Regions from separate parts of the Homo sapiens genome. Here region 1 is linked to region 2. Evidence: fine-mapped expression QTL. Tissue or cell type: whole blood. Region 2 holds a variant in brackets; the other region holds the start of a gene. All regions are shown on one strand. Distances are from middle to middle.

Region 1 (5,799 bases), 26 kb after region 2:
TAAAAGGTGTAAGTATTAAAAAACACTTGAAAGCTCTGTACCAAAGTCTCCAGCGGGAGTAGGGAGGGAGAGGAGTGAGGGAACATTCCTTGTACAAAACTTTCAAAGAACGGAGAATTTTTATCATATACGAACTTTCAAGAAGGAAAAATACGGGAAGCTATTCAACTGTTTTTATAAGTATAACCTTGACACGCAAGAAAAAACTCAAGGTCAAAATCTGGATTGTGCTCTTTATCTACAAGGTACCAATTCTGTAAAAGAATGTAAAAGTGTACTTAATTTTTAAAAATTAAGTATATATAAATGTTCAAAAAGGAATTCATTTTAAAGCTTTTTATAGCATATTGTCAAACTCTCTTCCAGAAAGGTTCTACCAATTTATACTTCCACCTAAGCACACTCAGTAATAGTTTTATTTTTTTTTAGACATGAGGTCTATGTTGCCCAGGTTGGTCTTGAACTCTGGGCTCAAGTGATCTGCCAAAGTGCTGGGATTATAGATGTGAGCCACCCACCGCGCACGGCCATAGATTTTTTTTTTTTTTTTGAGACGGAGTCTCGCTCTGTCACCAGTGCAGTGAGAAGGGTGCAGTGGCGTGATCTCGGCTCACTGCAGCCTCTGCCTCCCGGGTTCAAGCGATTCTCCTGCCTCAGCCTCCCGAGAAGCTGGGATTACAGGGGCCCGCCACCACACGCCCGGCTAATTTTTGTGTTTTTAGTGGAGACGGGGTTTCACCACGTTGGCCAGGCTGGTCTTGAACTCCTGACCTCAGGTGATCCGCCCGCCTCAGCCTCCCAAAGTGTGGGGATTACAGGTGTGAGCCACCGCGCCCGGCCCATAGCTTTGTTTTTAAGCAGCTCTCACCAGCGTTCACACCTGAAAATTTGAAAACTGAACGTGCACAAGTAAAACATGTTTCCTGGAGAAAATCTGCAAAATACAATAAAGCATAAAGGAGAAAATTTAAACACCATCCCATCATCCAGAGACAACTGGTGTTAATATTTCAGAGAGTAAATGGGCTTAAAAAACTTTTTTCCCCTTCTCACTTTTTCATTTTGGTAGAAAAATAATTAAGCCAGTCTGCTTTGCTTCAATGTATGGTTCCTTTTCGTTTCTAAAACAGGCTTTAAAAACACGTTTACCATTTCCTCTCGGCTCCTTACGTTTTAATTGTAACGACAGAACCACGGGTTAAGTCACGCTTAAGAACCACGGGTTAGTCACGCTTCTAACTACTTCACGTGTTCTTATTTAATCCCCCTAACAGTCATGTGGGTTAAATTAGCAGCTCGTTTGCTGATGAGGAAGCTAAGGAATGCCATACCGTAAGTGGCAGACACGAAATAAGGAACCAGGCAGCATGGTTTCAGAGCCTATGCTTTGGTTACTCCATTTGACCTCTTCAAATTTACTCCTCTCCTTGGCCTCATGTGTTAGTATTTACAGAGCTCACTGCAGGTTTCCACATGCCAAAGAGCACAGTTAATTACATATCTTTCCTTACTTAATTACTTATTGGGCTGTGGCTGATAGCGAGTCAGAAGTGTTACTATCTAATCTGAACTCCATGATCTTGGATGAATGACTGAACTTGCTGTATTTAAGGGCTCGTGTAATCTTACCTGTGAAATGGGCTAGTGGTTTAACCTTCAAGTTCTGCTTCTGGGTTTTATACTGCTGTCCATTTCCTGCCGCCCCTTTGACAACCTCAGGTTCCCAGCAGCTTAGGAATCACCTCTCATTAAGGCTGCACCCTGAGACAGACAGGCTGAAATGGAGGTTGGAAACTCAGTGCGCCCGCGGCCCCTTCTGCAGCCAGGACTGCACTTGGGTGCCAGGAGAAGGGAGGCTGCAAGGGCTGGGGTCCAGCCCCTGCTCGGGCGGCCGAGGGCTCCGCGGCGTTTTCAGCTCCTCCAACCTCCCGGCTAGAGGAACTGTCGGGGGCCAGCCACGGCGGTGCCTTGGTTTCACCTGGCTCCGCTGCGTTTTCTACGCCGCCCGCCTGACCTGAGGAGTGAGCTCCGCCAGCTCCGTTGGCAAGGCTGGGTTCCTCCGCGGGTGGGGCTCTCCTCCGACGCCAAGCCGCCCAAACCTCCCGAGCGCAGGTGCCCTCTGGCCGGGAAGTACTTCACCATTTACTAGCCTTCATCTCAACCACAACAGTCCCGCCCTGCCTCTACCGGGGATGAGGGAAGGCGTAACCTCCGCCGGGGACCAGGCCGACCTACCTAAACCGATCACTACATGGGAGGAGTCGGACGCCGGCCGTCCCACCACCCAGCCAGGAGCCCATTGATTGGTCGCACTCCCCACTGGTTCACGCCTCAGAGACTCGGCGCACTTACCGCTGGCACCGCAGTGGCGCCCGAGCGCGCCGCCTCCCGATTGACTGCTAGCGCTCTCGGCTTGTCTCGCGCACTGTAGCTGAGCCAATGGAGTTACTCGTAGTCGAGAGGCCGGCATCACTGGAGTGGTGGCGCAGCTGTTTCCTCCGGTAGGTGTGAGGCTGCCATCTTGTGTGTGGCTGGGACTGGGCTTCTTGGGGGTTGAAAACATACATAGCGCCTGGCCGTAGTGGAGGGGTCCGGAGAGAACAATGGGGTAAAGGAGAGGCCTAAGGGAGGAGACCCAGCGCCTTCCTACTTGCGGAAAGGATGGGTTTCCTGGGCCTGAGTCTCATCCCTGGCTAGAGAGAGCGAGGAATGGTGGTGGTGGTGGTGGTGATGGTTGTGGTGGTGGTAATAGTAGGGATCCCAGGTTTTGGTTTGTTGATCATTGTGGGGGCTGGGCGGGGCCTTTGATGCCTTAACATTGGTTCCTGGGAGCTCTTTTAGTAATTTTTGTCTCGCAAAGATTCTGACCATCAACCCCCTTTGACAAAGGAGGCTAGCTGATGAACTGCCTGATTGAGAAAGGAGCAAAGCTAGTAGTGGAAGGGGAGTGCCTCTCTACTATCCTCAGGTTCAGAAGAGACCTCCTCTTCCGTCCTTTTCGAGGGAGCGGCTGCTAAACAGTTTGCTCTTCGCGGGGGTTACTTTACTAAGGCCATCCTTTGGTAATAGTGGGCGTCAAGTTCTGCGTTTGGGCAAAATTGTACATTAGCGGGCAGCCAAGCATTCCTGCAGCTGTCTTTTTTTTTTCTTTATTTTAAGCTAGAAAGTGGTGGTCTTGCAGAAACGGGGCGTGAAGGAAGAATTTTGTCAAATCTTGATTTCCCCGATAACGATATGTTGAAGATTATAAATCTCTGGGTCTGCCATGACATGCTTGGTCACTTCATGGAGCAGGAGGAGGCTTTGTTAGGGAAAGCACCTTAATTTCTGAGCTCTTTTTGGGGTAGGAGGAAGAAGACAGGACTTAACCTTGTTTCCCTCCTCCTTTTTTTTTTTTTTTTTTAGCATTGTTGTGGATGGCATTGCATTGTCTTTCATTTGAGGGGAAAATGTATTGGATCTGAAGACCAAGCTGATGAAAGGCTAATATTTTGTGGTAGATTTTAGCAGTTTGACTTGCATGAAAAGAAAGCCGATGTATTATTGCCTTCAGCTTAGATTTCAGTTATTCAAGATTAACTGATGAACAACCTAATCAACAATACATGATAAAGACATCTCGCATCAGGAATACCAAAAAACAAAACAAACAGCAAAATAATTGATGTTTTTTTTTTTTTTTTTTTTTTTTTTTTTTTTGAGATGGAGTCTCTTGTCGCCTATGCTGGAGTGCAATGGTGCAATCTCGGCTCACTGCAACTCTGCCTCCGTGGTTCAAGCGATTCTCCTGCCTCAGCCTCCTGAGTAGCTGGGACTACAGACACCGGCCATCACGCCCAGCTAATTTTTGTATTTTTAGTAGAGATGGGGTTTCACCATGTTGGCCAGGCTGGTCTTGAACTCCTGACTTTAGATGATCTGCCCGCCTCCACCTCCCAAAGTGCTGGGATTACAGGTGTGAGCCACGGCACCTGGCCTGAGAATCATTTTTCTTAATTACTTGATTCCATGCTTGTATCTTCCACTTGACTTGTATCTTCCAGTTGGCTTGTCAAAATGCATGGAGAAACAAAAGTTCATATACCTTTTGACCTTTTCTAAGAAACTTGTAAGGAAATAGAGATAGAATCAAAGCTTTATAATCACAGTGTAATTTTGTTCTTGTGAAAAATTGGAAATAACAAATATCTAATGGTAGAAGAATGGTTTTATAAATTATGACACATCCCATCATTATATTTTTCAGCCTTTTAAAAGGAACGTTTTCAAAGAGTAGTGGCATAGGCTGTTGAATGACATAGGAAAGTGGTTACCATTTTGTGTTAAATGAAAGAAGTATAGAATAGTCATTGGGAAAATGCAAATTAAAACCACCGTCATTGGAAAAATGCAAATTAAAACCACAGTGAGATACTACACAACCTCTTACTCAGAATGTCAAAACAAACAATACATTTCCTGGCAAGGATGCAAAACAAGGAGAAACCTTAGTCTTGCTGGTGAGACTGCAAATAGTACAGCCACCTAGAAGACAATTTGACAGTTTATTATAAAATTAATCATATCCTTATCACATGATCTGGCAAGCCCACTCTAGATTGAAATTTACCACCAAGATAAGAGAGTTCCAGTAGTTTTTCATCCTTGTCAGCACTTGGCATTATCAGTTAAAATATTTAGCCTTTATATGAGGTATGATGGGGTATCTCATTGTGGTTTTAATTTCCCCTTTGATGATTGTATGCTTCTCTGATGAAAAGTGAAATGAAAACCTATATTGGCTGCTCTGCAAATATTTATAGCGATTTTATTTGTAATGGCCAAAACTGGAAACAACCAGATTCCACTAGGAAATAGATTTTTTTAAACTCCAGCATGTCCATACAGTGTAACATAGGAACCTCCTTTTTATTTTCTTTAGAGATGGGATCTCGCTATGTTGCCCAGGCTGGAATACAGTGGCATGATCACAGCTTACTGCAGCCTTGACCCCCCAGGCTCAAGTGAACCTCCCTCCTCAGCCTCAAGAGTAGCTGGGACTATAGATATGTGCCACCATGCCTGGCTAATTTTTTGGAGAGATGGCATCTTGCTATGTTGCCCAGGCTGGTCTCAAACTCCTGGACTCCAGTGATCCTCCTGCTTTGGCTTCCCGAAGTGCTAGCATTATAGGCATAAGCCACTGTACCTAGCCGGGAACCTCCTTTTAGTATATAGTTATATAAATATATGGGAAAAGGGAATATATATATATATATATATATACACTAAATCATTATAAGAAAATCATCAAAATAAGCCATAAAACATTGCACGAGATTATGAAAACATACCCCAAAAATGTGGCCACAAAGCAGATGAAAATGACAATCTAAATATTTCAGAGTAAGCTAAGAGAATTTAAGGAAAAGATGAAATCTTTGAAAGAACCACATAAATTCAGAAATAAGAGCTCAGACATGAGATACGTAGGAAGTTCTAGCCAGAGCAATCAGGCAAGAGAAACAAAAGGCATCCACATAGGAAAAGAAGTCAGACTATCTCTCTTGGCTGATGATCTGATTGTATACCTAGAAAACCCTAAAGACTCCACCAAAGGCTCTTGGAACTGATAACTTCAGTAAGTTTCAGGATACAAACTCTGTACAAAAATCAGTAGCGTTTCTATACCAATAATGTTGGAGCAGAGAGCCAAATCAAGAATGCAGTCCTGTTTACGATAGCCATACACACACACACACACACACACACACACACACACACACACACACTGCCTAGGAATACCTCTAACCAAGGAAG
Region 2 (5,799 bases):
GGCTTAGAGGCTGCCAACTGATTATCTAGCTTTTGGCAAGGCTAAAGTAAGAAGTCATTCTATCCTCTATGACCATTAAGGGGGCATATTTTAAAACAAGAATGTATACTGTATTCATCTAAAGACTGCAGTAGGTAAATCTGGTATTTTGCTCAGTCCCTTCTTTAGTCATCCTCTTCTGAAAGGCAGGTATATTAATTTCAGTGTACTCAAAGATGTTGGGTCTTGTATACATACTGGGCTTTTTATACTGTCTCTTTCAATAATTTAAATTAAGATATTAAAAAAAATGGTTGGGTGCGGTGGCTCATGCCTGTAATCCCAGCACTGTGGCAGGCCGAGGTGGGAGGATTCATTGAGCCCAGGAGATCAAGATCAGCCTGGGCAACATGACTAGACCCTGTCTCTATTTAAAAAAAAAAAAAAATATATATATATATATATATATGTCACATGAGATAACACTTGCACTAGAAGGTTAGAGTTTAGCTGGGGCAGCTATGTTTGGTCATGTGGGAAGAGAAGAAACCTACTGGTAACAGAGAGAAGTAGAGTTGAGACTGTGTCAACCCTGACCTTAGGTATTGACTTTTAAGTTCCTATTTTAGTGTTTACATGGCCTGCTGTGTTACATTTTCTGTTCTTCAAGACCTATTTTATTTATATATGTGTGTATGTATGTGTAGGTACATGTGTGTGCATGTTTTTAAAAATAATCTTTTGGGTTTGTGTGCATGTCATGTAAAAAGCCATAAAAATTTAATGGCTTAAATTTACACCTGTGTCTTTAAGCAGTGGTGCAAGCCCAGTGTCACCCAGTATGCTAACCAAAGCTGCACACCTCGTACACTTCTAATAAATTCCACTACTTAAGCTAGCTTGAATAGGTATGTACTCCTGACAAACCAAAGTTTATACTTGACCAAAAAAAAAAAAAAAAAGGGAATTCAGACTTCTAAAATCACAAAAGTAAATATCCTTTTAAAAGAATTATCACTGAAGTAATACTTTTGTTTTTACATTTACCTATGTCATAACTCACTTATGTGGAGTAGAAATTCAGTTCAACTCAAGAATAGAATACTGGCTGGGTGTGGTGGCTCATGCCTGTAATCCCAGCACTTTGGGAAGCTGAGGAGGGAGGACTGCTTGAGACTAGGAGTTCACGACCTGCCTGGGCAACATAGTGAGACCACATCGCTACAAAAAAAAAAAATGTTAAAAATTAGCCAGGTGTGGTGGTATGCACCTGTAGTCCTAGCTACTTGAGAGTCTGAGGAGGAAGGATCGCTTGAGCTTAGGGCGTCAAGCCTACAGTGAGCTGTGGCTATGTGCCACTGCAGTCCACCCAGCGAGACAGTGAGACCCTGCTGTCTCAAAAAAAAAAAAAAAAAAGAAAGAAAGAAAGAAAACAAAAAAACCCCACAAAAAAACACCAAAAGCCTGAAGCCTGTGTCCTATTAGACCCAAGATTTCATCCTGGGGTTTGCCGTTGATAGTTTGTATAATCTTTTTTTGAAATAGGGTCTCACTCTGTCACCCAAGCTAGAGTGCGGAGGCGCGATCATGGCTTGCTGCAGCCTTGATCTTCTGGACTTAGGTGATACACCTCAGCCTCCCAAGTAGCTGGGACCACAGGCATGTGCCACCAAGCCCGGCTAATTTTTGTTACTTTTTGTAGAGATGGGGTTTTGCCATGTTGCCCAGGCTAGTCTTGAAATTTTGGGCTCAAGTGATCCTCCTGCCTCAACCTCCCGAAGTGCTGGGATTACAGGTGTGAGCCACCATGCTCAGCCTAATCTTGAGCAGTTTAGCTGGGGCTAAGAATTCCTGGCTTAAGTTATTGAATGTTTAGTTTACTAGGCAACCTATGTGACCACTGGGCTGCTAAGAGGGTTTAAGTACTGAAAATAAAATAAGCAAATAAACTTCTGGCCTGCAGAGGAAATATAAAAGGAATTATTTAAACATAATTCCAGTCAAGAATGAAATGCTTCCTTGGAATTCTTAATGGCAAAGGAAGAAAATCCTAAGCCTAATAAGACATGTCCCTTCATCTGAAAAGATCTCAGAATGCTCAACTCAAAAGTTAGGTATAATCTCAAAAAAAGCCTCTGAGTGTCAACACAGTACAAGAGAGATGGGAGATTAAGGAAATGAAATTCTGATTATATAATCATAAACAGTCCTAAAGAGATGGGAAAACAGTTAAAGAAACCAACTCAATTTTTCTTGGAAGCTCGGATTTTTAAAAGTATACATACAAAAGAAGACAGCTAATTATGAATACGCAACATTGGTACGAAACTGTAAGAAAAGTATCACAAAGCCTAGTAAGAACCGAGGTTTCCAAAAGTGCTAATAAAATAACAACAACAAAAAACAACTAAAGCTATGCTTAGAACAAGAAAATAATCTGTTAGGAGAAAAATAAGGTTAACTGATAACAAAGAGAAGGAAGAGTTTCTCAAAAACAATTCTGCCTTTGTCTTTTCCATCTTTAAGTATGGCTCTCAAGTTGGAAACAAGAGGAAAAAAATAAAAAGAAACTGAAGTCTGTGACAGTTAAAGAGAGGGTACTAGAACTCAAGTTTATTTAAGCATATAGAAGACTCTACAAATTAAATCTCAAGGTCTGGAAAAAAAAACTTCAAATATAGAAAAATTAAAAATAAAA[T/C]AATACTGCCCTGATTTTTTCTTTGACCACTTATCCTCAAGTTCTAGCTGCCCTGATTTTTAAAAAGGGAAGGAGGACAGGCTACAGAAAATATAGAAAGGTTAGCTTAACACTGGTCTCTTAAAAATCTCTAGAAGAAGGCATCAAGGGTGTGGCTTCTAAATATTTTGAATTTAAAAGGCCAACCAACACTAGGTGCTGAGTTAACAAGTAGGTGAGAAAAATCCAAATTAACTGAATTTTCTTTTTTGACAACGTTTTCAATAAGTCTGAATAATGTCTGGCAATGCCACAGAATGCTATGGCAGTGAACCTTGATTTTTCATGACCACTTTGTAAGTGAGAAGTGTAGGCGGGACAACAGTAGAAGTAAATTCACAGTTGCTTAAAGCGTTCTTTCTGAAGCGTAATAAAAAGAATGTCTAGTAGTGAGCCAGCCACAAGGTTTTTATCTTTGGTCATGTCCTGTTCAATATTGTTTTCAGTGACCATAATGAAGATTAGAAAGCTTATTTATTTGTACAAGATGATAAGCTAAAAGGGACAAAAAATATTCCAAAATTCAAAAAGATTCTGATAAGCTGGTATAATGAACTTAAAGCAAAAAATGATACTTCACAGGAATAAACCACTCCTGCATTTAAGTTTAAAATATAATATCTAAATATATAGATAACTGTTTGGTAGAGAGCTTGTTTGGTGGTAATTTACATGAAAATTTAATTTAGATTTAGACTGAGTGAATTTGTTCCTAAAAACTTACAAAATTTTACACTGTATATTCAAAGGTCAGAATTTCTAGAAAAAAAAATGTTTTGTGAGCCACTGAAATGGCCAATTAAGGAGCTAAAGTGTGAACTTAGCTTTCTCTGTGAGCATTTTAAAGTAATTTTATGGGCCTTTTGAGACCCACTCAAACTGCAATGACATCTCTAATATTTGTAAATCCAAATTATATGAAACAGTGTCTATCTACAACTCTCACAGGCATGAAAATCAAAAAAATAATTATATAGTTTTTCTTAGTCAATTTAATATTAAGCTGAAAGAACAAATGAAATTAGGGTAACAAAGAAGTTTCTTTCTAAAGATACTTCTTTGTTTTTTGAAACTATGTTCTCTACTCTAGAGAACTTTCAGAAACTTCCCTGTAATTAGTACTTGAAGGGTTAGGCCCAGGTATTACCTACTAAAAATAAAGACTACGTGTCAGAGTATCTAGATTCACTCTTCCGCACATCTCCTTTATGCCAAAGAATCTTTATGGAAAGTAATGATAAAATGAGAAAGGGAAGGTCAGAAAAATTTAGTCTATTCCCATAAACTTTTAGACACTACTTAAGAGCTGTTACGCATTTTGAAAACTCAACTGATACTGAAAGAAACATTTTGACACTTTTAAATTCTCCAGATAATCTAAGCAGTAAAACAAAAAACAAAACAAAACAAAAACACACTACTTGGTAGATTTCAGTGTATTAATAAAATACACAAAGACATCTTAAGCTAAACTTTATAAAAAGACTTGATTAACTAGGAATATTCAATAACCTATTCAGAGACTCATGAAATTCTATCTTACATAAAATACTAAAATATACAACTTTTAAAGCTTTAATGGGAAAAATTTTTTTGTATATTTCATCTATTCTAATGTCAAGTGATTTATAAAGAAGAAATCTGTAGGAGCAAAAGCATTAATAACAAAGAATTTATATACATACAGAAATGTACAGTCTTCTGGAAAGGAGTTTTCACATGATGTAGAGGGAAATGCATTGGATTTGTTTTCCTGTTCCTTCTGAGTCACAGGCATAGGATCTACACAAAAAAATAATGTGAGCAACAAATATACCAAGTTAAAAACCATTTGCTATAAGTACCCAAGTAATATGTTCATTGACTAGAGTCTGCCCATATGGATCCCTAAAATTTGCAAACATAGTAAGGTTTCAAGATTGAGGCAAAAGATTAAGTGTCAATATTTTCAAAAATATGAATAAACTAGGATAAAATACTGAGGACAGAAAAGATTTCTACTGTAGAAACTCTAGTTTGGCCTGAACTTGATTTGAAGCTTAACCAATCTTTAAGGTGGACATTGAGTATCCCTACTTCTGCATGCATTTTATAGAGAAATCACATAATTCTTAAAGGCTCTATAAAAGTCAGAAAATGAAAAATTTATGTACCTTTTGTTTTCCTATTGCTCTACAACTATTTTAGGGAGGGGATGAAGTATCTGGGTATCTCTTTTGATCTAGTTGTTCACATTTCTTTTTTTTTGAGACAGAGTCTCATTCACTCTGTCGCCCAGGGTGGAGTGCAGTGGTATGATCTTGGCTCACTGCAACCTCTACCTCCTAGGTTCAAACGATTCTCCTGCCGCAGCCTCTCCAGTAGTTGGGATTACAGGCATGCAAAACCATGCTGGGCTAATTTTTGTAGTTTTAGTAGAGACAGGATTTTATGTTGGCCAGGCTGATCTCGAACTCCTGACCTCAAGTGATCCGTGCACCTGGGCCTCCCAAAGGGCTGGGATTACAGGTATGAGCCACCATGCCTGGCCCAGTATATTTATTTTCTAATAAAAAAATTATAACTTACTTTCCCCCTCAAAAGAAGTTTAATAAAAGGATATTGTATTTCAAGGTTGCTCCTTGGCTAACTGAAAAACAAATATCTGTCTTTAATTTTCCAAGTAAAGAAAGGTTTAAAATCTGATAGCTGAGCCAAGCACAAGGTTCATCCCTGTAATCCCATCACTTTGGAAGGATAAAGTGGGAAGATTACTTGAGGCCAGGAGTTTAAGGCCCCCCTGAGCAACAGAACAAGGCCCTGTCTCTACGACAGAAAAAAAAAAAAAAAAAAAAGTTAGCCAGGCATGGTGGCGCATGCCTGTAGTTCTAGCTATTTAGGAACTGAGGTGGAAACACTGCTTAAGCCCAGGAACCGTAGGCTGTAGTGAGCTATACTTGCACCACTGCACTCCAGCCTGAGCGACAGAGGAAGACCCTCTCTCTAAAATAAATGAATAAATAAAAGTCTGATAGTTGAAGAGAGCTATGTAAAAAGAAAATAAAAATTTAGGACCTTCCAAATTTATTATGCCAAAGGGAAAA

Evidence for each region. PIP is the estimated chance that this variant, and not a neighbour inherited with it, causes the effect.
Region 1: CAB39L starts here. The variant in region 2 is fine-mapped to the expression of CAB39L in whole blood (INTERVAL, PIP above 0.99).

The regions. Positions count from the first base shown.
Region 1 is chr13:49,440,688-49,446,486 of GRCh38, reverse strand. CAB39L (calcium binding protein 39 like) reads left to right here and starts at 2,423. Exons shown (of 11, transcript NM_001079670.3): 1 at 2,423-2,501. SETDB2-PHF11 (SETDB2-PHF11 readthrough) reads right to left here and starts at 2,213. Exons shown (of 21, transcript NR_135324.2): 1 at 1,630-2,213. SETDB2 (SET domain bifurcated histone lysine methyltransferase 2) reads right to left here and starts at 2,213. Exons shown (of 14, transcript NM_001160308.3): 1 at 1,630-2,213. RefSeq lists enhancers at 1,060-1,833, 2,516-2,595, 1,834-2,606, 2,976-3,045 and silencers at 2,306-2,355, 2,027-2,507.
Region 2 is chr13:49,466,563-49,472,361 of GRCh38, reverse strand. SETDB2-PHF11 (SETDB2-PHF11 readthrough) reads right to left here. Exons shown (of 21, transcript NR_135324.2): 5 at 4,402-4,498. It overlaps SETDB2 (SET domain bifurcated histone lysine methyltransferase 2), which reads right to left. Exons shown (of 14, transcript NM_001160308.3): 5 at 4,402-4,498. Among named protein-coding and RNA genes, the nearest start is that of SETDB2-PHF11, 25 kb to the right of the region's middle. The variant T/C (reference allele first, on the strand shown) is at 2,678.